Homo sapiens: one gene and its partners. The protein of the gene in region 1 interacts with the protein of each later gene in a pairwise test. Each region holds a gene or a part of one and is shown on either strand. Other genes may lie near its edges.

Evidence for each region.
Region 2: the proteins of GOLGA4 (region 1) and CIP2A interact in a two-hybrid assay, tested with the Homo sapiens proteins (one study listed by BioGRID).
Region 3: the proteins of GOLGA4 (region 1) and SERPINB5 interact in a two-hybrid assay, tested with the Homo sapiens proteins (one large-scale study listed by BioGRID).
Region 4: the proteins of GOLGA4 (region 1) and EIF4ENIF1 interact in a two-hybrid assay, tested with the Homo sapiens proteins (one large-scale study listed by BioGRID).

Annotation. Positions count from the first base shown.
Region 1 is NC_000003.12:37,296,963-37,305,494, forward strand, and holds part of GOLGA4 (golgin subfamily A member 4), read left to right. Parts: intron 1-1,870; coding exon 1,871-2,058; intron 2,059-2,325; coding exon 2,326-2,409; intron 2,410-5,222; coding exon 5,223-5,370; intron 5,371-8,532. UniProt on the Homo sapiens protein: Involved in vesicular trafficking at the Golgi apparatus level. May play a role in delivery of transport vesicles containing GPI-linked proteins from the trans-Golgi network through its interaction with MACF1. Involved in endosome-to-Golgi trafficking.
Region 2 is NC_000003.12:108,560,082-108,568,613, forward strand, and holds part of CIP2A (protein CIP2A), read right to left. Parts: intron 8,234-8,532; coding exon 8,074-8,233; intron 6,558-8,073; coding exon 6,416-6,557; intron 5,374-6,415; coding exon 5,274-5,373; intron 3,164-5,273; coding exon 3,045-3,163; intron 761-3,044; coding exon 568-760; intron 1-567.
Region 3 is NC_000018.10:63,498,422-63,505,767, reverse strand, and holds the end of SERPINB5 (serpin B5), read right to left. Parts: intron 6,649-7,346; coding exon 6,481-6,648; intron 2,439-6,480; coding exon 2,046-2,438; 3' UTR 683-2,045; downstream 1-682. UniProt on the Homo sapiens protein: Tumor suppressor. It blocks the growth, invasion, and metastatic properties of mammary tumors.
Region 4 is NC_000022.11:31,448,689-31,457,220, forward strand, and holds part of EIF4ENIF1 (eukaryotic translation initiation factor 4E transporter), read right to left. Parts: intron 7,300-8,532; coding exon 7,164-7,299; intron 6,628-7,163; coding exon 6,448-6,627; intron 5,689-6,447; coding exon 5,456-5,688; intron 1,673-5,455; coding exon 1,601-1,672; intron 844-1,600; coding exon 660-843; intron 1-659. UniProt on the Homo sapiens protein: EIF4E-binding protein that regulates translation and stability of mRNAs in processing bodies (P-bodies). Plays a key role in P-bodies to coordinate the storage of translationally inactive mRNAs in the cytoplasm and prevent their degradation.

The DNA of each region.
Region 1 (8,532 bases):
TTAATAGCAGTAGCTAGATTTCATATGAACAGGTCAGTTCTGCTTACATGCTAATAAGTGGGCTATTTGTAATTGTTTGGATATTTTAGTTTTTAAATATTGCTTAAATAGTTCTATATTCATAGATATTTGTATTTGTCCTATTAATTGCTTTTTAACTGGAAAAAGAAGAAATAGCTATATTTTGTCTTAAAATTCAGTTACAGCCTTCTTTGCTTTGAGGCTTGAGGTATATACGCAATAAAATTCCCGTCTTTTATTTCCTAGCTTTTTCTTTCAAAGGGACTTATGATAAACTTGGAGTAAGTAGTTGAGCAGTTAACTATCTGAGCAACCAGACTATGGTGGGGTGGTGGGGCGGCGGGGCCAGTCCCGAAATTCCCAGACATGTGGAAACTTCAGACTCATAAATGTAAAGAGATGGAGAAAGTTGCACTTACCAGAACTCCTCTCAGAAAGAGATTAGAATGTGGTTGGAAAGAATACCGTACTTTATTAATCCTTTTGGGAGGTGAGCTAAGACACATAATTTTGAATAACAAAAGATGATTATCAAACTGTCATTTTAAGGAGGGTGGATTCAGTTAATGTTAGTTAACTACTGTGCCATTCTGAATGGGGTTGAACCTCAAAGAGGTGAATTACTACTAAGCTTCTTCAGATAAAGATTAAACAACTAATACTAAGTAGAGGTTTGGAAGGGTGCCAGTTTATTAGCTGACTAGGGTTGTCCCTTCTTCATCTAAGAGTATAGCAGAATATTGGTGTAAGAATACACTCCTGGTGGGGCGTGGTGGCTCTCACCTGTAATCCCAACACTTTGGGAGGCTGAAGCAGGCGGATTGCCTGAGGTCAGGAGTTCGAGACTAGTCTGGCCAACATGGTGAAACCCCACCTCTACTAAAAATACAAACAAGTTAGCGAGACGTGGTGGTGTGCGCCTGTAATCCCAGCTACTTGGGAGGTTGAGGCAGGGGAATTGCTTGAACCAGGGAGGTGGAGGTTGCAGTGAGCCGAGATCATGCCACTGCACTCCAGTCTGGGCGGCAAAGCGAGGCTCCGTCTCAAAAAAAAAAAGAGGGAATACACACCTGTGTAGTAACAGACTGTTCCTGGAAGTGTCCTTATATTTGTAACCGCCCAAAGGGTTCACCTTGCCCACTGCCTAGACAGAGCTGATTTATCAAGATAGGGGAATTGCAGTAGAGAAAGAGTAATTCACGCAGAGCCGAGTGTGCACGTGACCAGAGTTTTATTTTACTCAAATCAGTCTCGCCAAGCATTCACGGATCCGAGTTTTTAAGAACAATTTAGTGGGTGGGAGGAAGCCAGTGAGCCAGGAGTGCTGATTGGTCAGGTCAGAGATGATATCATAGGGAATCAAAGCTGTCTTCTTGTGCTGAGTCACTTCCTGGGTGGGAGCCACAAGATCAGATGAGCCAATTTATCGATCTGGGTGTTGCCAGCTGATCCATCAAGTGCAGGGTCTGCAAAATATCTCAAGCAGTGATATTAGGAGCAGTTTAGTGGTGGTCAGAATCTTGTAGCCTTCAGCTGCATGACTCCTAAATGATAATTTCTAATCTTTTGGCTAATTTGTTAGTCCTACAAAGGCAATCTAGTCTCCAGGCAAGAAGGGGGTTTGTTTGGGAAATGGCTTTTATTGTCTTTGTTTTAGACTATAAACTATAAACTAAGTTCTCCCAAAGTTAGTTCAGCCTACACCCAGGAACGAACAATGACAGCTTAAAGGTTAGAACCAAGATGGAGTCGGTTAGATTAGATCTCTTTGACTGTCTCAGTCATAATTTTCCAAAGGCAGTTTCATATTCCTTACTGATGGGCCCTTCTTATGTTGCTTTATTGTTAGTGGAAGATGGAACTTCTGTAAAAACACTGGAAACACTCCAGCAAAGAGTGAAGCGTCAAGAGAACCTACTTAAGCGTTGTAAGGAAACAATTCAGTCACATAAGGAACAATGTACACTATTAACTAGTGAAAAAGAAGCTCTGCAAGAACAACTGGATGAAAGACTTCAAGAACTAGAAAAGATAAAGGTAAAAGAGCAGATGAGTTTTGTTCTAATTTAATCTATAAAGTTAGATCCACAGGCTCCACAGCATGGCTTGTACCTCCGGGAGAGGAGAGTGGATGGAAAGGGCATTTTTGTTTGCCCTGGCCTACATAACACCAAACCTTGAGACTTACTGTGTACTTTTTTCCTTCTGCACTGTAACATGTATATAAATTAGATAAATGTTTAGAGTTCTCAAATGAGAAGAAGCTTTATTAGAGATGGAAATGAATTTAAAAATTTTTTTTAGGACCTTCATATGGCCGAGAAGACTAAACTTATCACTCAGTTGCGTGATGCAAAGAACTTAATTGAACAGCTTGAACAAGATAAGGTAAAACAACAAAACCTATGATACTAAAATTTGTCAAGAGGCCCCAACATTTACTTTTGGAAACAGTTGGAAACATTCATGCTTGTTTCTGTTTTCTAAAAATTATTGCAGCTTTTTCCATGAAAAATCTTTAATTTCTAGATTTTTGTAACTACTAGCATTAGTTTTGTGTCATGTAAAACTGATTCTCTGATTTCTTGATCCCAGTCAGCATTATGATTTGTAGACTAGAATAACTGTTGCAAAGGAAGTTTATATTTATAGTACATAACTACTTTACAGAGAAAAGTTATTTATAGTTAAGGCATTATAAATGTGAATGATATCAGTATGTTCTTTCAGATAATATGGAAACAGATTAATCTCTCAGATAAGTTGCCTAACAAATAAATAAGGGGCTGGGCACAGTGGCTCATGCCTTTAATCTCAGCACTTTGGGAGGCTGAGGCGGGAGGATTGCTTGAAGCCAGAAGTTCAAGATCAACCTGGGCAGTAAAGCAAGACCTCCTCTCTACAAAAAAAAAAAAAAATTAGCTGGGTATGTTGGTATATGCCTGTGGTCCCAGCTACTCGGGAGGCTGAGGCAGGAGGATTGCTTGAGCCCAGGAGTTAGAGGCTACAGTGAGCTATGGTCACACTAGTGTACTGCAGCCTGGGTGACAGGGTGAGACCCTGTCTCTTAAAAAAACAACAAACAAAAATAAGTGATAATGTATATATTAGCATAAATAAAAATGTCTACAAATGAATTTTAGAATGTGTAGATGAGATTAGAGGATTGAGGAAGGAATGAGTCTTACCTTTGGTAGTTTGGAGTTGGAGCAGCAGCTAAAGCTACGCAGCAAAGACAACCAGAAAATTCATGGGTAAACAGTTTTGACCTGTCTTTCAGCTCCAAGTTCTTGGGTCCTTTTTCTAAGCAGCTCCCAGTTTGTTCCATAGCATCCACCATTTTCTTTAATATGCCGGGTTATCACTAGAGTATTTTAAGTGGTCACGTAATTAAGAACATGTCAGAGCTGTCCTGCTGTTAAAATGTATTGGCAATCTTTTTCATCCTTTTGATAATACTGCTTTGCTAGATTATACACTTCTTGAGGGCCTACTTAAATTGTTTTTTTTTTTAAATATTATAATGAAGAACTTAAAACATTTACAAAAGAAAAGCTGCTAAAATGAATTTCTTTGAACCCACCACCCCGCTTCAACAGTTAACATCTCATGACTAATCTTGTTTCATCTGTACCTTCTCAACTGTCATTGTCCTACTCACCCAGAATTGTTTTAGAGCAAATCCAAGAAATTTTATCATTTTTTTCCAAAAGTATTTTAATATATCTTTAAAATAAAAGACATTATTTTTACAATACTATAACCACATTATCATGATCACATCTAAAAATTTAATAATTTTAAAATATGACCTGCTATCTAGTCAGTTTCAGATTTTCTCTAGTTTCTCATATATTTTTTGCTCTTTTATGAATCAGGGTCCAAATAAAGTTTTTTCATTGCAATTGGTTGATATGACTCTTAAGATTTCTTTTAATTTACTGGTTTGATTATCTTCTCTCCTTCTCTTTCCACTATATTTTGGTTTTTGAAGAAACTGAAAGCCCATGATTTTGTTTTGAGATTTCATATAGCAGTGCCTCACTTACGTGGTTGTTATCTCTCTGTCTCTCCATTAATATTAGCCATCTGGAAGAGTCATATTCTAAAGCAAGGGTTGGCAAACCCTGTGGAGAGGGTGCTAATCTTAAGACCATGAAATTGTTGTCACAAAGTCTGAACATTTTTTCAAGAGACAAGTGAACCACCTCATTTTTTGTTAGTCCTAAATGACTTTTTTACTGTATACCATTTAGTTGTCTTTTTCCCCTGCCGACCTCCATTTCTAGTGTAGATTATCCAGAAAGAGGGAACAGAAGTAACTAGCAAGTTGGAGGAATGGAGATGCCTTACAAAGTAAGGAATAGTGGTGGTACCAGAGACAGTCACAGGAAGAAAGAGAAGAACCAGGTAGATGTGTCCTGGGATTTTGCTTTATCCAGTGTGGCAGCAGGCACCTTCCATTCTCAAGTGTCTGGGGTTATCCCCATGTTATAGTACAGATCAATACTTGTAGTTTATTGTAGTGCCAAGCCAGGTTCAGAAGACTATATTTTGTTCATTATAAACTGTTTACTAAGACAGATAGCACATTTGTAGAAAGGCTATAAAATAAATCTTTTAAGTAATAATGTTTTAATGCTTTAAGGATTAAACTATTAAAATTTTTAATGTAAAAAATACTGTTATGCTAGGTAATAGGATTAGAGCAGAAAACAGACCTCAGTTTGTGAAGTATTGAAATAATTGTTATGCTGTACTTAGCAAGAAATATCATTTTTTCTGCCTTTTATTTTTTGTTTTTTAATTTTTAATTTTTTTTTGAGACGGAGTCTCACTCTGTCACCCAGGCTGGAGTGCAATGGCGTGATCTCAGCTCACTTCAACCTCTGCCCCCTGGGTTCAAGCAATTCTCCTGCCTCAGCCTCCTGAGTAGCTGGGATTACAGGCATATACCACCATGCCTGGCTAATTTTTGTATTTTTAGTAGAGACAGGGTTTCGCCATGTTGGCCAGGCTGGTCTCGAACTCCTGATCTCAGGTGATCCACCCTCCTTGGCCTCCCAAAGTGCTGGGATTATGGACATGAGTCACCATGCACCATGCCCGGCCTTTTTCTGCCTTTTAAATTAAGTTTTATCTGTGCTGTTGATGATGCAGTTTTGTTATGCAAATGTTTTAGAGTCTTCACTTCTATTCAGGGAATGGTAATCGCAGAGACAAAACGTCAGATGCATGAAACCCTGGAAATGAAAGAAGAAGAAATTGCTCAACTCCGTAGTCGCATCAAACAGATGACTACCCAGGGAGAGGAATTACGGGAACAGAAAGAAAAGTCCGAAAGAGCTGGTAAGAACTTGAGGGTTACTTGTTTTATGTTGGAACTCAAAAGTTATTTAAAGTGCTTGACCAGTATTTTTAAAAATGAGTTAAATATTGATAAAAATTCTTAACTATAGAGGCTCCTAATAAGACACCCATCTGCTCATTAGAGGAGGCAGAGGTTGGCAAACTGTGGCCTGTGGGCCAGATCCAGCCCACAGCCTATTTATGTACAGCCCTTAGGCTAAGGATGATTTTTACATTTTTAAATACTTGAACAAAAGAAAAATATATGACAGAGACCATATGTGGTCTACAAAACCTAAAATATTTATCATCTGGCCCCTTACAGAAAATGTGTGCTGACAGAGTATCAAAATTCAGATTTAAAATTGTAGAACTTCCCAGTAGGTACAGCATGGTACTTATTAAATAATTGCTACCTTATAGATGCTTTAGGGTAAACAAAAAGTCTAAGTTATAGTCTGCTTTTAAAGAGAATAATGAACACTTCAGTGTTAATAGCATGTTTTGACACAATAAATGCTGGGCTATAAAGTATAGAAACCAGCATAGTATTCAACAAGGTACAAAATCGACTAAAGCTAGGAAAGGAGGGATGTTTGAAAGAGGAGAGAGCAGGATGAACTGTGCCTTCACATCAGTGAAGATGTGAGTTTTGAATTGGACCTCAAATAATCAATAGAATGGGCCTAACAAGAGAGGTGTGGGCAGCACACATTTCAGATGCTACAATGCCGTAAACAGGCACAGTGATCATAGTGGGTGTGTGAATCAGCTGAAAACCATTCTTGCTGAAGTGGGAAATGCAGTTGGATTGTAAAGGAACTGACTATTGAAATCTTAAAAGGTAGGTAGCTGAGTTTAGACTTTGATATACAGAGTAACAGGAAACCAGTAATAGGAAGGCATAATGTGATGGGAGCTAGGGTTTTATGTAGAAAAGAAATGAAATAGGAAGTCAAACTTAGAAGCAAAGACAGAAATCCAGTTTGAGGGACTGTGAGCTTTAGCCGCCTTGCTAGGATGGTGGTTCTGGGAAGGAGAAGAAAGGTAGAATCTGTAGAATTTGGTATCTGATCAACTCAGGGAGGCAGAAGAAAAGTAAGGACTCTAAATTGACTCCAAAGTTTTAAGCTTAGGACACTTAATGAATAGTAGTGTGGAATTAGAATAGGAAATCTAAATGGGGAAGTTGAGAATTGGAGTGAAATGATGGGTTTTTTAGATACACTGAATTTGACCCAGTCATGAGCTTTTCAAATGGAATTGAGTTGCAGGAATTTGGAAATAAGAAATTGGAACATCTTTCAGGAGTCATCAGCCTAGGATCGAAGCCTGTGGTTAAATCTGTAGGAGAGGCGGATTTCTACAAAAGATTAAGTTTTACAGTAGTAGTAATAGTCATAGTGGTAACAGCAGCAGCTGCTTCTGCTGACGCTTATTTAGCACTTGTTGCTGCTACTACTACTGCTGCTACTATTGTTAATACTACTGCTAGCCATTACTTACTTTAGTAATGCTCTGCTCTAAGGGCTTTGCTTGTATTTACTTGTATTGCATCCTCACAAGTGTATGAAATAATACTATTATCTTCATTTTACAAATAAGCAAACCTAAGAACATAGAAGTTAAGTAATTTACCTACATTTATGCACAGAGAATAAGTATATACTCAAGATTTAATCCAGGCATTGTGACTCAGAGTCTGTGCTCTTAACCATATAGAGGTCTTGAGTTTGGCAATGAGACATAAATGAGAAAAAAAAAGTTACCTCATGAAGTCATAGGAATTGTGGATAGTTTTTTGGGGGAATATAAGATATGTTTCAAGAAATGGAGAAGGTAAGATGAAGACTTTGAAAAGGTCCTTGAATTTGGCAAGGATTTGATTTGGAGGATGCAGTTTTGAGAAATGATTTTATAAACCAGATTTTAAGGTGTTAAGGAGGGGACTGGGTCTCTAGACAGAGAAATAGTTGACTATTTCATAAGTATCTCCCCATCTTCTTGGACTTATTTTATGGATAAAGTGACTGGGGAATTTAGTTAATGAATTTGTTCTCATCAAACCTAAGAAAACTTCCCTTTAGAGAGAGTAGATGGCATCTTTCAGAATATAATCTTTGAAGACTGACTTGAAGCAGTTTGAGTGTTGTAAGACATTGGTTCAACAGGTTTGCTTTCAGTGAACAGAAAATCTAATGCATAGCCTCAGCTTCTCATATCAAGCCTTTCCATTTTTAGAACTGCTTTCTGTTGACTGTTGTAGCCAGTAGAGAGAAAATGTTGGTCAGGGGATTACATTTCTTTTAAAATTCAGTGTACTTAATGAGGAGATAGAAACTGATTAATAAATATCAAGTTGAAAAGGGTAAATGATGAAAAGGTAGACAAAATATATAGTTCATTTACATGCGGATAAAATTTTCTGGTATATGTTCCAGTTAAACCTTTAGTAGAACAGCTTTCCTTCCCTTGCTTGCTTCTCCAAAACACAGGTATATTTTGTCTTTCAGTGTGATTTTCATAAACCATATTTTTTTAATATTTGATAGCGTAAAGGTTTAAAATTTTTTCTATTAATACTGTCAAAAATAAAAAATAAATACTAAAAGAATTAAGATTTAAATTATTATTACTTTTTTTGGGCACAATCTCGGCTCACTGCAACCTCCGCCTCCTGGGTCCAAGTGATTCTCGTGCCTCAGGCTCCTGAGTAGCTGGGTTTACAGATGTGTGCCACCACACTTGGCTAATTTTTGTATTTTTAATAGAGACCGGGTTTCACTGTGTTGGCCAGGCTGGTCTCGAACTCCCAACCTCAGGTAATCCACCCTCCTTGGCCTTTCAAAGTGCTGGGATGACAGGTGTGAGCCACTGCGCCCTGCCAGATTTAAATTATTAATGGATACATTTATTTTGGAAAGTCTTTAGATAACAAAGTTGTAAGTGCTTTTATAGATTTCTTAAAAATTATATTTGTAGTCATAATAATTGAGGGCTATGATGCAAAGTTGTAACAAACTGTCTCTACATTGAAGATAATGCCTTTTACATCTATAATGAAAGCTAGTTTTGCACACAAACTGTATTTCATTTAATAGTCTTAGTTGAGTCTAAACAGAACTGTTCAAGTAGGAAGTGATTCTTAGTTCAAATGTAAAG
Region 2 (8,532 bases), about 71 Mb from region 1:
TGACAAAATAAATGCCTACTTCAAAACTAAATCATTAAAACTTAATGATGAGTAACAAAATAAAAACAAATGCTACATCAGGTAAGTCACAAATATTTCTTTTTTTTTTTTGAGATGGGTCTCACTGTCACCCAGGTTGGAGTGAAGTGGTATGATCTTGGCTCACTGCAACCTCTGCCTCCTGGGTTCAAGTGATTCTCCTGCCTCAGCCTTCAGAGTAGCTGAGACAACAGGCATGAGCCAACACGTCCAGCTAATTTTTTGTATTTTTAATAGAGACGGGGTTTCGCCATATTGCCCAAGCTGGTCTTGAACTCCTCAGCTCTGGCAATCTACCCTCCTTGGCCTCCCAAAATGCTGGGATTACAGGCGTAAGCCACCGCACCCGGCAAAATGTTGAAATTTTGACTGATTTTTCTTATTTCCAAATTTTCCAGAATATTGTTATTTCTTATATTAAGGTTTCAATAGTGAAATCTGTACCTGACAGTGTTTAGATACACGTTATAATTGGGACTGACATATAGCTAATATGTACCAGGTTATAATTGCTATTTTTTCACTCACCACCATTCCAGACTGAAGTTTCTCTATTAATTCTTCAATATTCAATCCAGGAACACCATCTTTCAAATGAGGAGTTAAACACTTTATTGATGTTGGAAAACTGTGATTTGATGATTGCCAGGGCATTTTTCTGGGTATATGTTCTGTTTCCTGTTGTCTATAGGCATTGTTTGCTGCTATACTTTCTCCAAGTCTGAATGGGAGTCAAAGAAAGGAAAAAAAAATTATACGAAAATAGAAGAAAAGGCAGACTTAGTGCAGAATTAGGGAATTTTTAAGAATGGGTCCTTTTTTTGAATAGAAGTCTTCAAATAATCTTGGAGACCATGATGAAATGAAGTCTTGGGAAATATTCTGAATTTTCCAGAGCACCCACTTTTCTGTTTCTAACCTTTTATAATGACAGCTTCACCTCTGGTTTGGAGGCATTGTAAGACTAGTTTATGAGTGTGGATTATCTGTAATAAGTACAAAGTTATTGGTACTGGTCAGAATAATGTTCTTATCATGGGTGATATCACCTGGCCTTTACGTCCTTAGTCCTTTTCCTTTCTCACTCAGTACATACTTTTCACCAACCTGACTTCCATTCTAACCCTTTAAAATCCTCTCTTTCTCCTACCTCAGGCCTTCATATGAGCTGTTCCTTTATCTGGAACACGCTTTCTACCACAAAACAAAATATTTTTTTCACTTATCTCTTAACTAAAGTGCAAACTGCAAGATGGCAGGCACTCAGCCTAATTTATTATAGGCTGGGCATGGTGGCTCACACCTGTAACCGCAGCACTTTGGGAGGATCACTTGAGTCCAAGAGTTCGAGACAAGCCTGGGCAACCTGGTGAGACCCCTCTATAAAAAAATAAATTAATTAAGCAGTTGTGGTGGCACAAGCCTGTGGTCCCCGCTACTCAGGGGGTTGAGTTGGGAATATCACTTGAGCCCCAGAGGTCGAAGCTGCAGTGAGTCATGATCACACCACTGCACCCCAGTCTGGGTGATAGAGTGAGACCCTGTCTCGAAAACAAACAAGTAAATACACACACACAAAAACCCTACCTACCAATGCATCCATAATATACATTCAGTTTATTAAACGCCCAAGATAATGTCAAATAAGGGCATTAAATAGTAAGCATAAAATGGACATCTGAGATAATGCCCAAAGAGAAAATTATTTACAACACAAATAAGACAGGGAATGCCAAGACACAGTCAAAATGGTGGGAAGGCCTCACACACAGAGGCAGAGGATAAGACTTCCATGTTCAGTGAGGCTGCAGATTCCCCTTTGAAGCTCTTAAGGTTTTGTTTCATGTCAGATTACCAGTTTATGCAAGCAGGCCATCACAAAATAGAGCAGCTTTACAGACCACTTTTAACTTGTAACTTGAAAAGCTTCCTGTGTATTTTTGTTGTTGCTGTTAAAAAAATATTTATTATAAAATTAAGGGAATTTTGGTTATATGTTCTCTAGGTCTTACATCCCATACTTTAACTCTTAAGGTATGATGACCTAAATTGCTAATTCTGAAAAGTGGAATCGCTAAATCAGTGAATAGCATATAGCATGGACCAGCACTTTTTCTTATAGGTCAAGATAGTAAGTATTTTAGACTCAAGGACCTATCTGGTCTCTGTCACAATTACTCAATTCTGCTTTTATAGAGTGAAAGCAACATAGACAGAGTATAAAAATGAGTGGGTGTGGCCATATTCCAATAAAACTATTTACAAAAACAGATGCCTGTCCACTGGCCAGTTTGCTGATCCCGGTATACAGGGAATATCTTACCTGTTTATCAACTACTTCAAATTATTCAAACCATTTTTACAAATTCATACATATAAATGACTTAAAAAAATTTTAAACCAGACTCCTAATAGACATTTAGTTCAGAGAGCCCTGAAATCTGAATTTTTTTTCAAACATAATTGCAAATATTCTTATTGCTTGAAAGTAACGAGTATAGTAGAAAATTTTGCCTGGTTGTCATTTTTCCACTTTCTGATAAAAGTTCAGATTTTTTTCTTTAGGAACTCTCCTATTCTCCTATCCCAACTAACTTTTAGTCCACATCGTTCTCATGGATAACCCAGGCCTGGTCAATGACTAATGCTTAGACCTTTTCCTTAAACAGTCAGGAAGGAAAAGCTCTTTCTATGGAGGAACTAAACTGGGAGGATGTAGGCTTAAGAGTGTCCAGAAGTTATCATTAAAAAGAAGTGGCTAGAGACATAGAGGGATAGTACCTGAAGAACATTTAACTGCCTGGATCTAGCTTTTCCCTGAGTGAGTATACATCTGAACTTTTCATTTATAAGAATCAAACATTTTTAGAAATCACTTGAAAAATTACTATTACAATGAAGTCTTCAATTCACTAATTTGCTTGTGTATCTATACTGAGGACTAAAGAGACATAGCAGGGTATTCCAACACCACAAGAGATACACTGCAAATGATTACAACTCACACTAAAGCAGGAAAATCTGGCAGTGGAGCAGCCTCCAATAATATTCTCAGTCCAGACTGTACTTGTTCTCTATTATCTGACGTTAAAGCAAAAGCCAAAGGAGTAATCAAACGTGGGTCCTAAATAAATCAGAAACCAAAAAAGAAGCAGCAGAAAGAATAAACAATGTCAGCTCTTTTAGATAGGAGGTGAGTAAATATATGTAAATCTTAATTCTAGGCAAATTCTAAAATGTTTCTAATGTTTGAATATATTATAGTCTATATAGTTTGAATATATTATACCTTGTTATAGCTGTTTACACTGCAATGCAATCAATATGAACAGTTTAAAAAAATCTGGCAAAGGTTTTGAATGCTTTCAAATGTGCCTATAAAAATTATGCCTTATATATTTTCGTGGATTAAAAAACCCACAACTGACTGATGTGTAGAATTAATGTTTTTTTCCAAGCTATCATTTAAAAGAAAAAAATGGCCAATCACTTCCAAATTAAGGCTATAAAATAAAAAGTAAAATTCAAATTAAATTAGAACATTTAAATTTAAAGATCGAAAAAATACAGTTACTTCAATCATTTATGTCAGTAAATATTTTACATTAGTATTGTAAGCCCCAAGTCATCAACATATATCTAAAATGTCTGGGACCAGAAGTGTTTCAAATTTCTGATTTTTTTCAGATTTTAGAATATTTACATGTACTTACTGGTTGGGCATCCCTAATCCAAAAACCCAAAATGCTTCAGTGAGCACTTCCTTTGAGTATCACCTTTGAGCCTCATTTTGGTACTTAAAACGTTTTGTTTTTTGGAGCATTTCAGATTTCAGATTTTCAAATTAGGGATGCTCAACCTGTATTATGAAAAACATCTTAAATAATGGACATAACATCAGTTTGACTCCTTTAAAAATACATTGAGATATTAGTGAAGAAAATATTAAAATATAAATCCCTTATAATTAAAATATTGAGTACCTTGTAGGTACTTGAGTATAATCCAGTGTCACAGAACTGTGATAAGAGCAGAGCTTTATCTCCAAAACCCTCAATGGTAAGCCTCATTATTTCCAGTTTGTAGTCGAGGAAATTGAAGTCGAGAGAGGTGAAATAACTTACTCAAGCCTGTACTAAGAACCAGTAGAGTCAACATTTGAACTCAGTCCCTTAATCTCAAAACATGCCAGTGGTCCCTGCCTAAGGTTTCAGTTTTGGCTTCTACACTGTCTATACAGTCACTAGAGATGTCTCTGTTAAGCTACTGCAGTAATTTAATTCACTCATTTTTGTTAAACATCTGTTGTAAAGGTAGGTGTTGTAGATATTATTACACAAAGTTTTTAAGAGGCTAATATTTTGGAGTAGTCTCCTCCACTATGCTTTAGCAGACCAGATCAAACCAGAAAGGAGTCACTTGGATGAGTGCCATGTAATCAAACTGCACTTTGAAATGGGCCAGTTTTCCAAAAAACCAGGAGATTTCAGTCAACCTGAGTTAGTATAATAAGGAAGCCCCCTTTATTATAATTCTATAGGAAAAGTAACTTTGAAATGACCAATCTGCTTTTAGTTCCCTATTTGTGCTTTCTTCAGCCCTTTTCTGGTCTATAAAGTCAACCTTCTCTGCTTAGCCCAGGGGAATGATTCATTCTATTTTATAGAATGAGGCTGCCAAATTCTAGAATCATAAATAAAAGCCAGTTAGAACTTTGAACTAAATTTGTTGTACTTTGCCTTTTGATAACAGCTAGAGATCATATTCAGCTACTATTATCATTGAAATTTGTGAGTTAGCTATTTTCTGCACAGCCCTTCTAATTATCACAATCCTTTTCTTCCAGCTGTCTCCCTATCCCCTTAATACCCTACATCAACCCTAACCAAAAACAAAAACCCTAAAACAAATATCACTCTTCCTCCAATGCCAACAGAAACAAATGAAGAAATATACAAATACAACACAAGAAAGGAAAAGGCTGAGGAAGCAGCACTATTGTGAACATTCTCTACATTAGTGTCATGAGCACTTATGTTCAATTCCTGTGAAAGTATATAAAATAACTGTGCAGTGAGACTATTATAACTGCTTAAGACAACAACTTTAAACTTTCTTCTCATTGCCAATTCTAAGAGAATTATCTTCTAAAGATTAAGAATATTAAAACAGAAACTTATATTAGGACCATTTATGTATGAATAAACTTCAATGTTTGAAGAGTTTAAACTCACCTGAAGTATTTTGTAGAAGCTTACTTCCATACCAGGAACCAATGGTTTAAGTTTGTTAATCAAATCAAGAGTTTTCAAAATTACATCAGCAGCAAGTTTGCTTTAAAGATAAATCACATTTAAATTAGATAACTGAAAAATTTCTTAGAGCTTGTTTCTGTCCAAAATTCTAAAGAAAATGAAAAAAACCAACACTTGTGTTTTTTAAATTCAAGATGATAAAGTCCTGTTTCTATTGAGAAGTAAAAATCTCAATCAACATTCTTATAACTCAAGATCCAAAGAGAACAAACTGGCATTAATAGCCTTAGTTTAGACAGTGTTTCTTTTACTACCAACCTGCTTCAACTTTCTGTTTCAAGTAAGTAGTAGTTTCGAAACACAGTTCATTTAATTCTTAGCTTTGTCACTAGAATATCAACAACAGACGGTAACCTTAGGCAATATAGAATATCTAATACGTAATGAATGAATTACACTAGGTCATGTTCTGAGTTTTGTACCTGAAAGTAGTATACAAATATAAAAACAGATAATTCTTACTCTAAAGGTCCACAATTACTGACAATTGTGACATCTGTGGAAACAGAAACAAATCATAGTGTCTACCACTCAGCAGGTCCTCAGTAAAGATTAGATGGACTTAATTCATGAGGAGGGAAGGGGTATAAAGTAATATCTTATTACCATCAGTGAAAATCCACCTTTAACCATAATTCCTGACCTGCCAAGGAAGGAGAGTTGTCTGTTATTAAAAAGCCTTTAGCAGTGACTGATTTCCTTGTAATAAAACTACTCTTCTGTTTTTTCATGCTTTTCATTTAAAAAAGTAAAATTGATTACTGAGGCAATGTCAAAAAGGAGCTCCAGAAATGTTCAGAACCCTTAGATAATTATAGTAAGTTAAAACAAGACAAAACAAACCTAAACAATAAAAAACAACAAATGTTAATACCTTTCTTCAAAAAGCACACAATCTACAAATTGAATGAATTTACAAAAAATTCATTATGAAAATATGTTTGTTAATCTGTTATATCTTAAGTTATAACCAAAGGATGGTCCTCCAAAAGGATGAGAATCACCACATCTTTCGATTTTTTACTGCCTTGCCATTTTGTCATTAGAGTTTATATACTCACCATAATTCAGAATCTGCAACCTTTGTTCCAAATCCCAGGTCAATCTTGCCATATGTAAATTGTTGTTCTATAAGAGTGGTACACTTGACAGTTGTCAAGATTTTTGCAATATGCATTTTTAGTGTATCATCTCCACAGAGAGGTTAAGTTTTGTTAAGATATACAACAAAAAAATTCTCACTTTATGTGTAAAAGATAACATTCAGGATGATTTCATACAAATTATATCATCACTGTCATCCAGTATAATTATTGTTAAATTAGCTCAATGACAAACAAGGAAACTGAAACTCACACAATTTAAATGACTAGCAAGTGGTAAGAGATGGACTGGCACCAAAGGTTTCTGACTCAATGGTTAAAACAGCGAGGATATCTTTCCATTGGATGTCTGTTTTTTGTTAGCAAGAATCTCAATGGTTCAATAAATATTTATTGAATAAGGGTAAGTTGTTTTGTCATATTTGTATATTATAAATTAATGTAAATAGCTATTATTTTAAAAGTTGTGGTCCAATTCAATGAGAAGGCCCCACTTTATTAATTATAAATATCTCCAAGGTCAAGCAATCATGTATCCCTACTGCAGTGGTTCTCAACTTTAGCTGCATGTTAGAATCAACCAGGTAGTTTAAACAATCACAAACAAAAAAGCCAACATGCAAACACACACCACCTAATGATTTCAGGGTTTCACATCACTCCAATTAAATTAGAAACTCTTGAAGTAAGGTTCTGGCATCGATTTTCTTTTTTTTTTTACATGTTCTCCAGGTGATTTTAGGTAGGAAATCAGGGTTGAAAGTCACTGCTTTAAAGGAAGAAAATTAAGGAGCAGTACCTTAGAAGAGGATATTAAACAGGGGTGGAGTTTGCTCTAGGACAGAGTAGAACATATTCTTGTTGCTCTGAGATACAAGGAAACCTGACTAGATACATTTAAGAGATCTGGTTGAGATACAGTGGCTCTTTGCTCATAGTAAAAAAGTATTAATGAAATATTTTAAAATTGGGACTTCCAGCAACTCAGAATTAGTTGGTCTATGAAAAAGTAAACACAAGGAAGACCTAGAAAATCAGTATATAGAAGTTAAGCAGTGAAACTAAAAGGTTTCTTTTTAAATGAATGAATTTGTGTTGATATACTTGTCTTTTCTTATAACCATTATTAAAGCAATTATGAAGGCTTTATTTTTAAAACATAAGGTAAAACAACTGAGCTAAAATCATGACAACTCTATCAGCATTTCTTTATCCACGAATACACATCACCAAAAAATGGCACTACTGATCGTCCGTCCAGGGGAAATAATTAGCATCAAGCAGAAAACAGTAACATGGAGTAACAGAATAGTCATTTTAGAATTTACCACCAAATGTCAAATTGTGATACAAGTGTCAAAATCAAGCTTAAACAGCATTTTAAAAAATGTACTTTAACTTAAAAGTTTCACACAGAAAAATAAGGAAAAAAAATCATGGATCTTTTTCACTCATTGAGAATTTTTTCTACAGTTCAAATTTTAGTTCAGTAATTCTAGATAAATATGAGCATAAAGTGACAAATTACAAATAAAGACAAAATGCAGTGAATGCAATACTAGAAAAAAAAGAATGGTTAGTTATACAGTTTTCACGTTAATGACAGTAAAGGATATTTAACAAAACTTCAATGGCCTTGGCAATCCTTTCACATTTTTTTCTTGTTAAAGCCTCATCTAGATTTTGTTCTGTGAACTGAAGTTGATCAAGGATTGTAGGCAGCAGAAGGGTCACAAAACGATCAGCCGAGGAACAGTTAGCAGCATCTATGACATCCTGGAGAATTATCCATCACAAATGATTAAAAGCAAAGATGGAATATACAATACAGAAAAAGTCATCACTGAATTGTAACACTCTCTTTAAATTTTTTATATTTCCTTCAATATGCCATTGACCTAAGTCTCCTGTGAATATTTAAATTTTTATTTAAAATTTATACTTCTAACCAGTTTTGAGGGCTATGGCTTTTTTCTCAAATTAGACAGTAAGGTTTTACAAATAAGACTTTTTTAAACAGACTTTGTGATTTAAAAATTATTCTAAACTAAAAGTATCTACTGAAAACAAATATC
Region 3 (7,346 bases), on another chromosome or scaffold:
CATACAGTGTCCTAATATAATGACTTTTGAGGGTGGGTTTAGAGTGAAAAGGGCTGGGAAGATCTCTATGTCCCAAGGTGTCTGATTCCATTATAGATGTTTATGCAGTTGAGAGTCATTCTAGCACTGCCCTGGTCTTTTACTCCCTAGGATGAAAGGAGTGTGGGAGAAAGAAGTCAGAGCTGAGGGCTAGGAAGAAAGGAAAACAAGGGAAAAGAGGAAGTAATTATTCTTATTTCTTTTTAGTCTGCCTCAATCTTCAAAAGAGCATTTTACCTACAGGGATGCTTTGGGGTTTTTTGGGGTTTGTTCTTTTTGTTTTGTTTTGTTTTTGTTGTTTTTATGTTTTGAGTTTTTGTTTTGTTTTTTTTTTTTGAGACGGAGTTTTGCTCTGTCGCCAGGCTAGAGTGCAGTGGCCTGATCTTGGCTCACTGCAACCTCCGCCTCCCAGGTTCAAGCGATTCTCCTGCCTCAGCCTCCTGAGTAGCTGGGTCTACAGGTGGGCGCCACCACGCCCAGCTAATTTTTGTATTTTTAGTAGAGACGGGGTTTCACTATGTTGGCCAGGATGGTCTCAATCTCTTGACCTTGTGATCTGCCTGCTTCAGGGATGCTTTTGTAAACGCACGGCTTGGTTCTATTTCAAAATAGTCTAACTTAATAGGAAAAAAAAAACAAGACATGTAGTTCAATAATATTTTATTGTCAATAGCATAGGAAAAATTCAATATTGAATCTCAGAACAAGAAGAACCTATTTACAATGCAGGTCAAGGAAGAGATGGGAGAAGGAATGTCACAAAATTTTTGGTAAATACATATTTTTTATAGAGAAGTAATCCATGAACCTGCAACACGGATAGCTTATCCAACCAACTTTACAAATTACTATTAATATAAGTTACATGCTTGCCATCTAAAGTAACTAAACCCATAGACTGAAAAACTATGTGTCAAGGTAACGTGAGCACTTTAATCACTTTACTTATATTTTCTAAAGGCAGTAGTTTCCTCTCCTTTTCCCGCTATCATATTAGATGAAGAGACAAGTTCCTTCAACACAAATTCTGATATCGGCTATTGTGAGAATCCCTGTGCAAGTCAGCTAGAAGCCCCTGCCACCAGTCTAGTGCCAACCAAATGACCAGATGGGACAGCTATCAAAAATGAAAGTGAATTTATATTAAGATCTGAACTTCCTCTTGGGGTCTTGCATTTCAGCTACTAGAGGTCTATAATTCCTTATCCAACATTCCACAATCTGAAAAGCTCTGCGAACGAAGTGTTTTTGTAAGTTGGTGGCATACGCATTTGGCAGCAAATTTTGACCCCTTATGGGCTACTTAGTCTTTATGTATCCATTTTGTCTGAATATTCTACATTTTGTTGCAGCATATTAAGGTGTTGATTTATAGGGTGCTGCCCCAGATCTGATCCATGAAGTTCTATAACATACAGTGTATGTAAAATATTATCTTTTGAAAATCCCCAAAATTCAGAATTTTAATAAACACCTGCCTGCCAGGGCTTAACATAAGGACTTCTGGACCTATAGTAGCCTGAGCATGTGCCCAAGTTTCACTGGAGCCAGGGCAGTTTCGTGGGTCCCATGCACTACACTTTCTTCAGTCTTTCAGGGAAGCGAGAATGTCTGGAACATTCTCTATCCCAAAGAAGGAAAGCATAGTGCTGGGAAGAAGAGCTTCCAAATCTTCCTTATAGGAATTTTCTTTGTGGAAGACTGTATTTCTGCCAACTACCCCGGACAATTTGACAAATAATGAATAAATATTTTTCCTCTAACGTGATTCCTTTTCATTAAAAGCGTATGTCATTGTCTTATGGGAAAAAAGGAAACAAAAGATAGAATTGGAAAAAAAAAAAAGGTCTATCTGTGTGAAGGCTACATATGACAAGTACTGGCGGCTTCCTGATCCAGCAACATTAGCAATTTATTGTATCTAGAAAATGAATCTCTGGATGCAGAGTTTACAGAAATCGGCATCCACAGAAAAGTCAGGGAGGACTTAACATGGGCTATGCCACTTAAGGAGAACAGAATTTGCCAAAGAAAATAATGTTTCGAGTTTTGTTGTGCCTGATGATGTAAATAAAGGGATGGTCAGCATTCAATTCATCCTTGTGCTGCAGGATCCGTGCTCCTGGCACCTCTATGGAATCCCCACCATCTTCAGTTATTTCTAAGCACACTTTGTGGATAACATTTGATAGGGCCACTCCCTTGGTCTCTGACATTCCAGAGAAATCAGATGTGTCTTCACTGAAGATATGTTTCAGCCCTAGATTTTCCAGACAAGCCTTGGGATCAATCATCTTTTCCACCTTAAATTTTGGAATGGAGAGTTTGACCTTGGCATTGGCCATGGTGCTGGGATTAGTCCACTGTGACAGTGACTCTGAGTTGAGTTGTTTTTCAATCTGAAGGACAAAAATGAAAAGAAATTATTTTTATTTATTTCCAACTGTAAAAGACCTGGCTCAATTGAAAACATAAGGTGTTATGATAAGCCCAGCTTCAAAGCAGTCTGGGTGGAACATCAAAGATGGCCCAGAAGTTTTTGGTATGTGACTCAGGAGACCCAGCAGCCACCCAGCTGTGTCCTCCTCCTCCCCAGCCTATAACAGTGTTCCATGTGCACTGAAATTTATGAGGACAGGGTTCTGTTTTTTCATTTTAAGTTAGAGAGTAGTTTTTTGTTTGTTTGTTTGTTTGTTTGGGTTTTTTTTAGACAATCTTGTTCTGTCACCCGGGCTGGAGTGTAATAGTGTGATCGTCGCTCATTGCAACCTCTGCCTCCTGGGTTCAAGCAATTCTCGTGCCTCAGCCTCTCGAGTAGCTGGGATTACAGGCACACTCCACCATGCCCAGCTAAATTTTCTTTTGTATTTGTAGTAGAGACAGGGTTTCATCATGTTGGCCAAGCTGGTCTCAAACTCCTGGCTTCAAGTGATGTGCCAGCCTCAGCCTCCCAAAGTGCTGGGATTAAAGGTGTGAGCCACCGCACCCAACCTTAAGTTAGAGAGTAGATTTATAGAAACAAATGCCTGGATCATGATGTTGCATACACAATAGTGAAATGAATATAAAATTAGAAAGCTTTTTACACATATTTCTTGAATGCTTATTGTAATTTCTCTACGAGGAAATCCAGAATATTCATGTACTAGGAATGGCATCAGATTTAGAAAATTAAATTAAAGCTAAAGTTACTTTTTTTTTTTAATGGGAATTTGAACTAACTCTGAGCCATGCCCTAGGGTCATAGGTAGTGAATGCATCCATTTTAGCTGTTTTAAAAAATGAGAGAGATGCGGCTGGGCGCAGTGGCTCACGCCTGCAATCCCAGCACTTTGGGAAGCCGAGGTGGGTGGATCACGAGGTCAGGAGATCGAGACCATCCTGGCTAACACAGTGAAAGCCCGTCTCTACTAAAAATACAAAAAATTAGCCAAGCGTCGTGGCAGGCACCTGTAGTCCCAGCTACTCGGGAGGCTGAGGAAGGAGAATGGCATGAACCCAGGAGGCGGAGCTTGCAGTGAGCTGAGATCATGCCACTGCACTCCAGCCTGGGGGACAGAGCAAGACTCCATCTCAAAAAAAAAAAAAAAATCATTTCCAAAACTCAAAAGGTCATTTTCTTTAGTTCTATACTTTAAGAAGAAAATAATTGAAAGCCAAAATTGACAAATGGGATCTAATTAAACTAAAGAGCTTCTGCACAGCAAAAGAAACTACCATCAGAGTGAACAGGCAACCTACAGAATGGGAGAAAATTTTTGCAATCTACTCATCTGACAAAGGGCTAATATCCAGAATCTACAAAGAACTCAAACAAATTTACAAGAAAAAATCAAACAACCCCATCAACAAGTGGGCAAAGGATGTGAACAGACACTTCTCAAAAGAAGACATTTATGCAGCCAACAGACACATGAAAAAATGCTCATCATCACTGGCCATCAGAGAAATGCAAATCAAAACCACAATGAGATACCATCTCACACCAGTTAGAATGGCGATCATTAAAAAGTCAGGAAACAAGAGGTGCTGGAAAGGATATGGAGAAATAGGAACACTTTTACACTGTTGGTGGGACCGTAAACAAGTTCAACCACTGTGGAAGTCAGTGTGGCAGTTCCTCAAGGATCTAGAACTAGAAATACCATTTAACCCAGCCATCCCATTAGTGGGTGTATACTCAAAGGATTATAAATCATGCTGCTATAAAGACACATGCACACGTATGCTTATTGGAACACTATTCACAATAGCAAAGACTTGGAACCAACCCAAATGTCCAATAATGATAGACTGGATTAAGAAAACGTGGCCCATATACACCATGGAATACTATGCAGCCATAAAAAATGATGAGTTCGTGTCCTTTGTAGGGACACGGATGAAGCTGGAAACCATCATTATCAGCAAACTATCACAAGGACAACAAACCAAACACTGCATGTTCTCACTCATAGGTGGGAATTGAACCATGAGAACACCTGGAAACAGGAAGGGGAACACCACACACCAGGGCCTGTTGTGGGGTGGGGGGAGGGGGGAGGGATAGCATTGGGAGATATACCTAATATAAATGACAACTTAATGGGTGCAGCACACCAACATGGCACATGTATATACATGTAACAAACCTGCACATTGTGCACATGTACCCTAAAACTTAATGTATAATTAAAAAAAAGAAAAATAAATTATTGAAATAAAAAAAGAAGAAGAAGAAGAAAATAATTGATGTTTATTGGAGGGCGTTTTAAGAACGAAAGGTAAAATCCAAGACAGCTGGATAATGGCTGAAAGATCAAAGCATAAAATGGAAAGAAAAAAAACAGAGAGAGTAATGCACCAAAGAAGAAGAAGGACAGGAATTATAATTCAGTTAATAAAGTGGTGGCTAAAACATAATGGCAACCAAAGGAGCAAGCTGGAGACTGGATGGTCCCCTGGAAAGTCAGCAAATCACTGAGGCCCATGTGGATATATAGCAAGTGATCCAGGCCTTCAAAGAGCCCCTTCTTCCTTCCTGGCCAAGGGTTGAGGCCAGGCGGGGTGGAGCTAGAATGGAAGCCAGGGAGGGACTAAAGGGAGAACAGGCCTCAGCCAGCTAAGCAGAGGTGAGGGAGCAGAGAGGAAGCTAAAACTCCATTCACCTGCAGAGAAAACTGCTACTCTTATTTAAACTTTGTGCCTTAAAAATCTATATAAATAAAATAATATAATAACCCTTATCATATAAAATAAAATACTTATATATAATGTGTACTATAAAATAGTATCTGCATAATTCAAAATTTTGAAGCATATATGTGTACGTATTAAAATCTCATAAATGTACAACACAAAGAGTGAACCGTAACGTAAATTGTGAAGGCCAGGTGTGGTGGCTCATGCCTATAATCCTAGCACTTCAGGAGGCTGAGGCTGAGGATTGCTTGAGGCCAGGATTTCAAGACCAGCCTGGACAACACAGTGAGATCCCACCTTTACAAAAAAAAAAAAAGCCAGGCATAGTGCTGTGTGCCTTTAGTCCCAGCTACTTGGGAGGCTGAGGCAGGAGGATCACTTGAGCCCAGGAGTTTGAGGTTAGAGTGAGCTACCATCATGCCACTGCACTCCAGCCTGCCCAGGAGTTTGAGGTTAGAGTGAGCTACCATCATGCCACTGCACTCCAGCCTGGGCAATGGAGCAAGACCCTGTCTCTAAAACAATAATAATAATAATAATAATAATAATAGTAATATGTCAGTATTGGCTCATCAATTGTAACAAACATACCAAACTAATGCAAGATGCTAATAACAGGTGAAACTGTAGGCCTGGGACGGGAAGGGGAGTATATGGGAACTCCTTGTACTTTCTGCTTATTTTTCTGTAGGCATAGATCTACTCTAAAAATAACATCTACTAATTTTAAAAAAAAAGAAAGAGCAAGAGAGAGGATGCTTGACATCAGGTCACATGATAGTGGACCTGGCAGTGCGTAGCAACGTAGTGCCTTAACTGCCTAGGAGGTGAGGGAGACACTCTAGCCTTCAGTTAAGAACCTGGCTCCAACTACCTGGGCCCAAATCCTGATCCTGCACACACCCTTGACTAATTATGTAACCAGTTACCCACCCCTCTGTGCCTCAGCTCCCTCACTGGTAAACAAGAGTGTGGTAACAGTCTCTAACTCATCAGCCTGCTGTAAGAATTAAATGAGATAATGCACGTAGGCAACTTAGCACAGTCCCTAGAACACTGTAAGTGCCAAATAAATTTTGGCTGTTGTTAATATTAAGGAGGAAAGGCCCCAGAAAGAACCATGGGTCCTTGGAGGTGACTGAGCCAGTGGCAATAAGGGAGGGCTACCGGCCCAGCTCTCACGGCCCACACAGACCTGTTGGCACAACTCTTTGCCAAGGCAGGGGGTGCCTTTGTGGAGAGCACCTGCCTTCTCCTTACCTTCTCCAAGCCTGTGGACTCATCCTCCACATCCTTGGGTAGTAGGATGAACATGCTGAGATGCTTATTTTGAAAAGGAAGCTCTATGATCTTACAATTGATACTGTCAATGTTTCCCATACAGAACGTGGCCTCCATGTTCATCATCTGCACTGGTTTGGTGTCTGTCTGTAAAAGGGAAAATTTGGACTGCTTACTTTTCAATTTACACATGCATAAATATATATATATATATATATACACACACGCGCGCACACACACACACATATATACCCACATGTATATATACAGACACACATACATATATACCTACACCTATATATATACAGATACACATACATATATACATACACCTATATATACACATATACATATATATGCATACATACATATACATACATATACATATACACACACCTATATATACACACTTATATATACATACTATATATATATACCCCATACATATATACACACATGCACATATATACACATATATAGGCAAACACATAAATATATATGTACATATATATATATACACAAATTTGCTCTTGACACAGTGTCAGATTATTATGGCTTATAATTCATCATCCACTCAGATCCAAACTGTATTGCACTGAAACCAGAGACTGTCCTGTGAAGAGTTTGTGTTCCTTTGAAAAGTTATTCATATACTTTATAATCTACATGTTACACATTACATGAAGTATATATAATACTGTATTTGCATAGATCAAACCTTAAAAATAAGACTGTATGGCTGTAAATATAGGCAACGTTTGTTATTCTTTACAGATGCCTATGAGATCTTTAAACTATTCCTGGTGGAGCTGACTTGAAAGTAAATTCTACTGCAAACCCACATA
Region 4 (8,532 bases), on another chromosome or scaffold:
CATTCCATGTAAATACTTTGCTAAGACACTTTCTGGAACTTTTCTTTCAGTCACATTCTGAATTAGCCATAAGACTTAACAGCAGATTGTCTATCAAAACTCAATAGCTTCATAGATAACCACTACACTGACTTCTACTATATCAAAGAAAAACTTAAGAAGCCAAATTAACTTTTTTTGGATTGAATTCCCAAAATAAGGAATAAGACTAAAGAGCTAGATCAAAGTTAGATTTCAATAAAAAAAAAATCTATAACATGAACATATTCACCTAGAAGAGCAGCTGGTATCTTCCACGTTTGGTACCCCATCCCCCAAAAGTATATTTATTTATTTTTTTGAGACAGAGTCTCGCTCTGTCGCCCAGGCTGGAGTACAGTGGCGTGATCTTGGCTCACTGCAACCTCCGCCTCTCAGATTCAAGCGATTCTCCTGTCTCAGCCTCCTGCGTAGCTGGGATTACAGGCATGCACCACCACGTCTGGCTATTTTTGTATTTTTAGTAGAGATGGGGTTTCACCACGTTGGCCAGGCTGGTCTCAAACTTCTGACCTCAGGTGATCTGCCCACCTCGGCCTCCCAGAGTGCTGGAATTACAGGCATGAGCTACCGTGCCTGGCCATAAATTCATATTTCTTTTGACAAATAAGTATATTTACCAATTGGTGATGGTATTCTTGGGCGAAGGTAGTCAGCTGAGGCTGCTCGAGTTTGAAACACCTGTGACAAGGGAGGAGAGGGTGCTCTTTGGCCCAGTAAAGATGTTGTAGGCTCCAAGCTCCCCATAAGGCCACTCAGAAGATTGGAAGAAGCAGGTCTCTGAACTGGTTGACCCAGAAGTTCCTAAAGGCAGAAAAGCCAAATCCCTGTGAACTTAGTTATTCCTTCTACTCAGAGGCTGTGAATTATGGATTAACTTTTGAGAGCCACAAGATGGATCTCCCTCATGCTCAACTGAAGGACTTGGCATGTGTACATGCAACACATTTATCTGAATGTTCAGCTAGCAACATATGCTCTAAGTTAGTGCTATAAATAGAGGTTCCTTTTTTTTTTTTTTGAGACAGAGTCTCACTCTATCACCCAGGCTGGAGTGCAGTGACATGATCTCGGCTCACCACAACCTCTGCCTACCGGGTTCAAGCGATTCTCACGCCTCAGCCTCCTAAGGAGTTGGGATTACAGGCATGTGCCACCACACCAGGCCAATTTTTGTATTTTTAGTAGAGTCAAGGTTTCACCATGTTGGCCAGGCTGGTCTCAAACTCCTGACCTCAGGTGATCCACCCACCTCAGCCTCCCAAAGTGCTGAGATTACAGGTGTGAGCCACCGTGCCTGGCTAGATACTTTTAAGTTTCACAGAAACTGCAAAGGAAACTAGAAGTCAAGGCTTACTTTGTCAACTTTTTTAGCCATCCCCTATCCCCTGCCCATTGAGATTAAAAGCAACACCAAACTATGTCAGGCAACAATATCACCTCTCTGATTGCCAGGCAACACAGATCATTTTCTAAGGCCCAAAGTTGGACCACTAAGCAAAACTGGTTCAGAAGACTACTGTTCAAGACTCCAAGGCCTCAGTATAAGATTGTGAAGTACCTGCAGGATGTTCTTAGGGACAGGCTGGCCTGGAATCTCAGCAGGGGACATCAAATGGCTTTCAAGGTTTCGCTAAAAGAGTCAAAAGAAAACTGGTTTTAACTTTCTTAACTCACTTAACTTACAGATTGATTGGGGACCACAAGAAAGCATAAAATACTCCTAGGGAGTTAATAGCAGAATGATACTCAAGTCACAGAAAACTTAGACCAACGTGTTCCGCTCTCATCACACAGGTCTCAAAGATCTGGGGATGGAAAGACCGTTCACATGTACATGCAAAGTCCCCTCAGAGATCCTCACTATGCTAATCCTAAGTCCATTTCCCTGTTTCTAACACTGTGACCAAAAGGGGGAAAAATGGTGAAACCGGGGAACACTTACTTGAGATAACTCTTGCTACCCATTACCTTTAACAAGATTTATTGGAGACACACACACACACACACACACTCATATATACACACATACATATATACATACATATATACACACACATATACACATATACATACACATACATATACACACATACATACACACATATATATATACTACACACACACACACACACACACACACACACACACACACACACACACACACAAAAGAGACAGGGTCTTGTTCTGTTGCCCAGTCTGGAGTGCAGTGGTGCAATCATGGCTTGCTGCAGCCTTGACCTCTCAGACACAAGCGATCCTCTCATCTCAGCCTCCTGAGTAGCTGGGACTACAGGTGTATGCCACCACACCCAACTAATTTTTATATTTTTTGTAGAGATGGGGTTTTGCCACGTTGCCCAGGCTGGTCTTGAACTCCTGGGCTCAAGCAATCCTCTGGCCTTGGCCTCCCAAAGTGCTGGCTAAATTATAGACGTGACCCACCACACCCTGCCTACACATATGGTTTTAAAATCCTAGTAAACAACATGCAGGTTTGGCCAAAATTGTTATATTTCAGAGTTTCATATTTCAGGAAATTTAAGCTTTATTATTTTATTTTTTGAGACAGAGTCTTGCTCTGTCACCAGGCTAGAGTGCAATGGCACGATCTTGGCTCACTGCAACCTCTGCCTCCAGGGTTCAAGCAATTCTCCTGCCTCAGCCTCCTGAGTAACTGGGACTACAGGCACATGCCACCACGCCCAGCTAATTTTTTTTTTTTTTCAGTAGAGACGGGGTTTCACCATGTTGGCCAGGATGGTCTCGATCTCCTGACCTCGTGATCTGCCCGCCTCGGCCTCCCAAAGTACTGGGATTACAGGCATGAGCCACCGCACCCGGCAACTTTATTATTTTTTAAACGAGCTGTTCCAAAATGGGTATCACATACAGGGCAAAATTCAAATCCTCCACTCTTAAAGCAGTAGTGGTTACTTTTTTTTTTTTTTTTGGGACAGGTCTATGTTCTCCAGGCTGGCCTTGAACTTCTGGGTTCAAGCAACCCTCCCACCTTGGCCTCCCACGTAGCTCGAACTATAGGTGTACACCACCAGGCCTGGCCAGTGGTTACATTTTGTGCATCCAACCTGGAGTCCCCTCCTGCATTTCAGGACATCCCTATGCCCATTTAGCTCTGTGTGAAGTGCTTTCTCTGGTGTAGTTTCCCTTCCACTAGATGGAGCTGTCAAAGTCCAAAGCAGTGTCTAGGCATGACAAATAGCTCAAGAATACCCAAGTATTTTATTGTTGATTTTGGAACTGGGACTAAAGGCAGATGATTTTATAAGTAATCTCTTTAAGAGTCATTTACTTCCATCTAATAAAAACAAATAGACAACTTTATACTGCATGGCTTATTATACTTGGAGGATAGAATCTATAATTTAAAACAGAATTTAGATTGAACCAGCATGTATTATTTTTGGATGAACCAATATGACAACCTAAATGGATGGAGGCAGATCAGAAATAGTATACAAAACATACACAGCAGTAGTAATTAAAGACACCGAATTCAAAAAGTAAACCATGACTTAACAACATGCAAATTGAGCAATATTTTGAGATAACACCTGCTATTCTTACTCCATTACTTTCCTTGTTGTATTCTTTCCTGCTAGCTGAGTTTGTCTTAGCCTTTGCCTAGCCACTTGAATGTGTCATCCATCCGTTTGGCAGGTGTTTGAGGCTCATTTGCTCAGCTAAAACCAGATACACTTCTGAGTGCTAAAACCCCAACATCAAACCAACTGCCCTTACAACTCGAGTAAATTGTGTTAATATCAAATCCTAGAATCATATCTGCAATAAAATGTGGAAAAACATCAGGTAAACTGCTGAATGCCCCCTTCCATATTTTTAGTTGCTCACACCAAAAGAAAGAAGCTAATTATAAGATATGAACCACACCATTGCAGTCAGCACCCAATCACCAAGACACAAATGTAACGAGAAAGGAAAATAGGATAGTCTACCATCTTTCAGTCTGATCTTCATTTGAAAGCATTTGTATCTAATAATTCTTTGTATAAAAGTAACTCTAAAGCAGTTTTACAGGGACATTCTCCTGCAACTGGTATGGTGTGGTCAGATACAAAGAAGTCAGTCTACCTATCTGAGGTGCCTCCTTTCAAGTGTAGGTCAGTCCTGGCACTAAGGAATAATGGAACCTCTGTCTGTCCTATTGGTCAGATAAGGAATGCTAAAAGTCAGTTGCTTTCTTTTGGTATAAGACATAATGATTCAAACAGCTATTGCTACTTGCATCTTGGCTAACTGGTAAGTTCCCAGGCAAGCAGGGAACAGGAAAAAAAGAGAGAAAACTCAATTTGGTAAATTTGCTATAACTTAGCAACTAGAATAAGTCCATGTTTATGTTTTTATTATTCATATCTACCCTGCTTCCACATTAGTTTGTATCAAGAGATAGTGATATTAACACATAGGCTATGGGTAAGAACTACCCTCTCAAAATTGTTAGGACAAAGAACCAGTATATTATAAACATTTGCATTTACAAGGTGATATGCAGTTGTGTCACCTTGTAACCTAACTTCATGCCTACAAGTTTTGTTTTTAACTTGGAGCCACAACTTTTTCCATTAGTAAATTGACAGAATGTAATTATCCTGACAAACCCATCTTACTTTTTTTTTTTTTTTTTGGAGACAGTCTCACTCTGTTGCCCAGCCTGGAGTGCAGTGGCGTGACCTCGGCTCACTGCAACTTTCATTTCCCAGGTTCAAGCAGTTCTCTTGTCTTGGCCTCCCAAGTAGCTGAGATTACAGGCGCATGCCCCCACGCCTGGCTAATTTTTATTTTTAGTAGAGATGGCGTTTCACCATGTTGGCCAGGCTGGTCTCAAACTCCTGACTTCAGGTGATCTGCCTGCCTCAGCCTCCCAAAGTGCTGGGATTACACGCGTGAGCCACTGTGCTCAGCCCCATCTTAGATACTTTACAAATGATTTGTATGACTGCAAGAATGCAGGTAATCCCTGGTATCTGGGAATAATTAGAAGATGTGAATAAAGATTTTACTATACAAATATGGTAAAGAATATGAACTTAAGTAGCTGAATAACAAGAAAATTGTCTCTGGAGTTCATCCAAAAAGATAGTTTTATACCTCATTTTAGCAGTGACTTAAAGTTATACAGGCATTACCATTAAGACTGAATCTTTTAATCTTTATACTGTCACCCACAATACATATAAATTAACCACAAGCCTGCTTTTTCCAGTAACAAATAGCATATCAATAATTAAGGAACACACAAAAGCATCAAGGACCAAATGACTACTAAAGAATTTCCAACTTACTCAGAATACCTTTTTAAAAATCCTTTTATTGTGGTGGGAAAAAGAAGAAAAAAAAAGGAGAAAAGGGTGGGGGGTTTGTGTCAGATACTTACGCTGACTTTGGGCTGAGAAGGCAAAGTCCCACTTGCCTTCATTGTGCTCACTAGCTTGTTGAACGCAGTCATGTCTCCGTCTTTCTTCAGTTGTCGATTGTTGGTTACGGCACTCAAGGTCTCTTCTAGGTGTTCTGCCATGAAGGGAGTTGAATTCTTCACTTGCTGGTCAACCTTCAAGCCCTTCAGACCTGCTTCTACCTCCTCCACTGAAAGCACAACCCCTGAATGTGCTGAGAAGTTGAGAACGTCCAGGTTAAATCAAGCAAAGAGATATCTGGTAGGAATTCTCTTTGGCTAGTATGACAGATAAGATGAAAATAATTTATTTCAAAATTGAGATGAGACTGTCAGAAAAGACTGACACCAAAAATAAACTAATAACACTTAAAATCAAATTGTGTACTAAGAGATGGCATAAACTAAACCTAAAATGTTTAGATGCTAGAAACTGGGGGACCACAACTATGAAGTGCTATTCTTTAAAACTTGACAAGCTCCTGCTGTGCATCCTGCAGAAGGATATGAGTCTTCTGGGAGACTTGTTACCTGGGACAAGAATCCCAGATAGCCCAACATTGCCAAGATTGCTGCCTGCACCGTGGTCATTATATCACTAAGTTTTTATGTTGAGAATTTATAGCCTAAGCAAGAACATGGAAGACTAGGGCAGATTTGTGAGGAAATGGTAAGTTATGCTCTGGAGGAATAAAACATTCACTGGAGTTTGTTTTCAACATTCACTGGATTATTACAACCAGACCCTAGGTAAGAACTTACAGGAAAAGTTCTCATAGGGCTCATGACCCACTGTGAGATTCTCAAAGAGGTGGTATTGTTTGATGAAATGAGTTTTTAAAAAAGAACATTAAACAAAAACCCAATATATATTTGACTTTTTATGAAACAGAGGTTATGTTAGACCCAACTGCCTGAAGACTGAACATCTAGACCTTTTCAGATATCTAAAACAGATATTCATAAACACTTACAGCTTTCTTTAAGTTTTTCTTTATTTGCAGAAAGGCTGGAAAGAAGAGGTTTCAAATCCACTTTGGCTTTCTGTAGCATTTCTAAAATATCCACTTTATTTTCAGCATGGTCTTCCAATGGTATAGGAGCAAAGTAATTCCCCGAGTTCTGTCCAGGAGAGAGGATGGCTTGCTCCAGACCTGATATTGCAAATAAACATACTCAAAATTAATCTGTTCCAGTAAAGAAACATGCCTTCGACAGTATTTTTCTTTCTTTCTTTTTTTTTTTTTTTTTCTTTGAGATGGAGTTTCGCTTTTTCGCCCAGGCTGGAGTGCAGTGGCGCAATCTCGGCTCACTGCAACCTCCGCCTGCCAGTTTCAAGCGATTCTCCTGCCTCAGCCTCCTGAGTAGCTGGGACTACAGATGCCCGCCACCACGCCTGGCTGATTTTTGTATTTTTAGTAGAGATGGGGGTTTCACCATGTTGGCCAGGCTGGTCTCAAACTCCTAACCTTGTGATCTGCCTGCCTTGGCCTCCCAAAGTGCTGGGATTACAGGCGTGAGCCACTGCACCCGGCCCCTTCAACAATATTAAAAGGACACAAATTGAAGGCTTTTCAGTTGTCCAGAGACCCTTTGACCCTAATTGACTCCTGACTAATGAAGATAAAATGAACCATATCAGGGAAAAACCCAGGTTTACCTTCAAGGGCAGAATCTGAAGCCATTTTACCTGCAAGTCTCTCTAGCTCTTCATGTGGTGTTGACCCAAGACTGCTGGATCGGCTTCCTGATCTGCTCGGGTTAGAGAACCACCTACTGAACCGACTGGCAGAGACTGACCCTTCTCCCAAAACATCTTCTATCATCTGAAGAAAAAGACAATAAAAACTAATAGTTTCTAGATGAAAAAGGACAAGAAGGTTTAAATCTTATGAAAGGGTCACTTACTTTGAAACTTCCTTTCATGCTCGTGACCTGAAGATAAATACTCTCAGAACCTAGGAATTTGAACACCTTTTTCTTCCTCCATCCTGGGTAATTTCTGAATAACCCAAACTTGAGTATAACCATCTACTTACTTTCCTTTTTTATTTTTTATTACTTTTTTTTTTTTTTTTTTGAGACAGAGTCTCGCTCTGTCACCCAGGCTGGAGTGCAGTGGCACGATCTCGGCTCACTGCAAGCTCCGCCTCCCGGGTTCACACCATTCTCCTGCCTCAGCCTCCTGAGTAGCTGGGACTACAGGCGCCTGCCACCACGCCCGGCTAATTTTTTGTATTTTTAGTAGAGACGGGGTTTTACCGTGTTAGCCAGGATGGTCTCGATCTCCTGACCTTGTGATCCGCCCGCCTTGGCCTCCCAAAGTGCTGGGATTACAAGCATGAGCCACCACACCCGGTCTACTATTTTTTTAAGACAGTCTCGCTCTGTTGCCCAGGCTGAAGTGCAGGGGTGCAATCTTGGCTCACTGCAACCTCTGCCTCCCAGGTTCAAGTGATTCTTATGCCTCAGGCTCTCGAGTAGCTGGGACTACAGGCATACGCCACCATATGCCTGGCTATTTTTAATTTTATTTTTAGTAGAGATGGGTTTTTACCATGTTGGCCAGGCTTGTCTCGAACTTCTGACCTCAAATGATCCACCTGCCTTGGCCTCCCAAAGTGCTGGGATTACAGGCATGAACCACCACTACTTTCTAAGAATATAAAGCAAAGCCTCTATGCTACAAAAAGGTTTTTGGGTTTCTATCCTTTGCCTCAGGAGTAAATCCACGTACTACCAAATGTTCTCAGAGAACAGTGTCAATGCCACAGCATTCCACTGACAAGCTGATGAGTGACCTTCAACTAAATATCAAGTATGGGGAACTGATGAAAGAAAACCATTGCTTCAAACTTAGTGGTTTCAAGGTTGTAATGAACATTATGAAATTCAATCTTGAGAGTTTCAGAAGCCAAAGGCTAAAAAAGCAGAGCTCATAAAGACTGTAATTCCAAGTCAAAGTTTAGAAAAAGTATGATTGTGGAAGATGAAATTTCAACTGATCTCTAATTTCTGTTTGAGATTAATAGAGAGTTTTCAGGTGTTTTCTGTTTCCA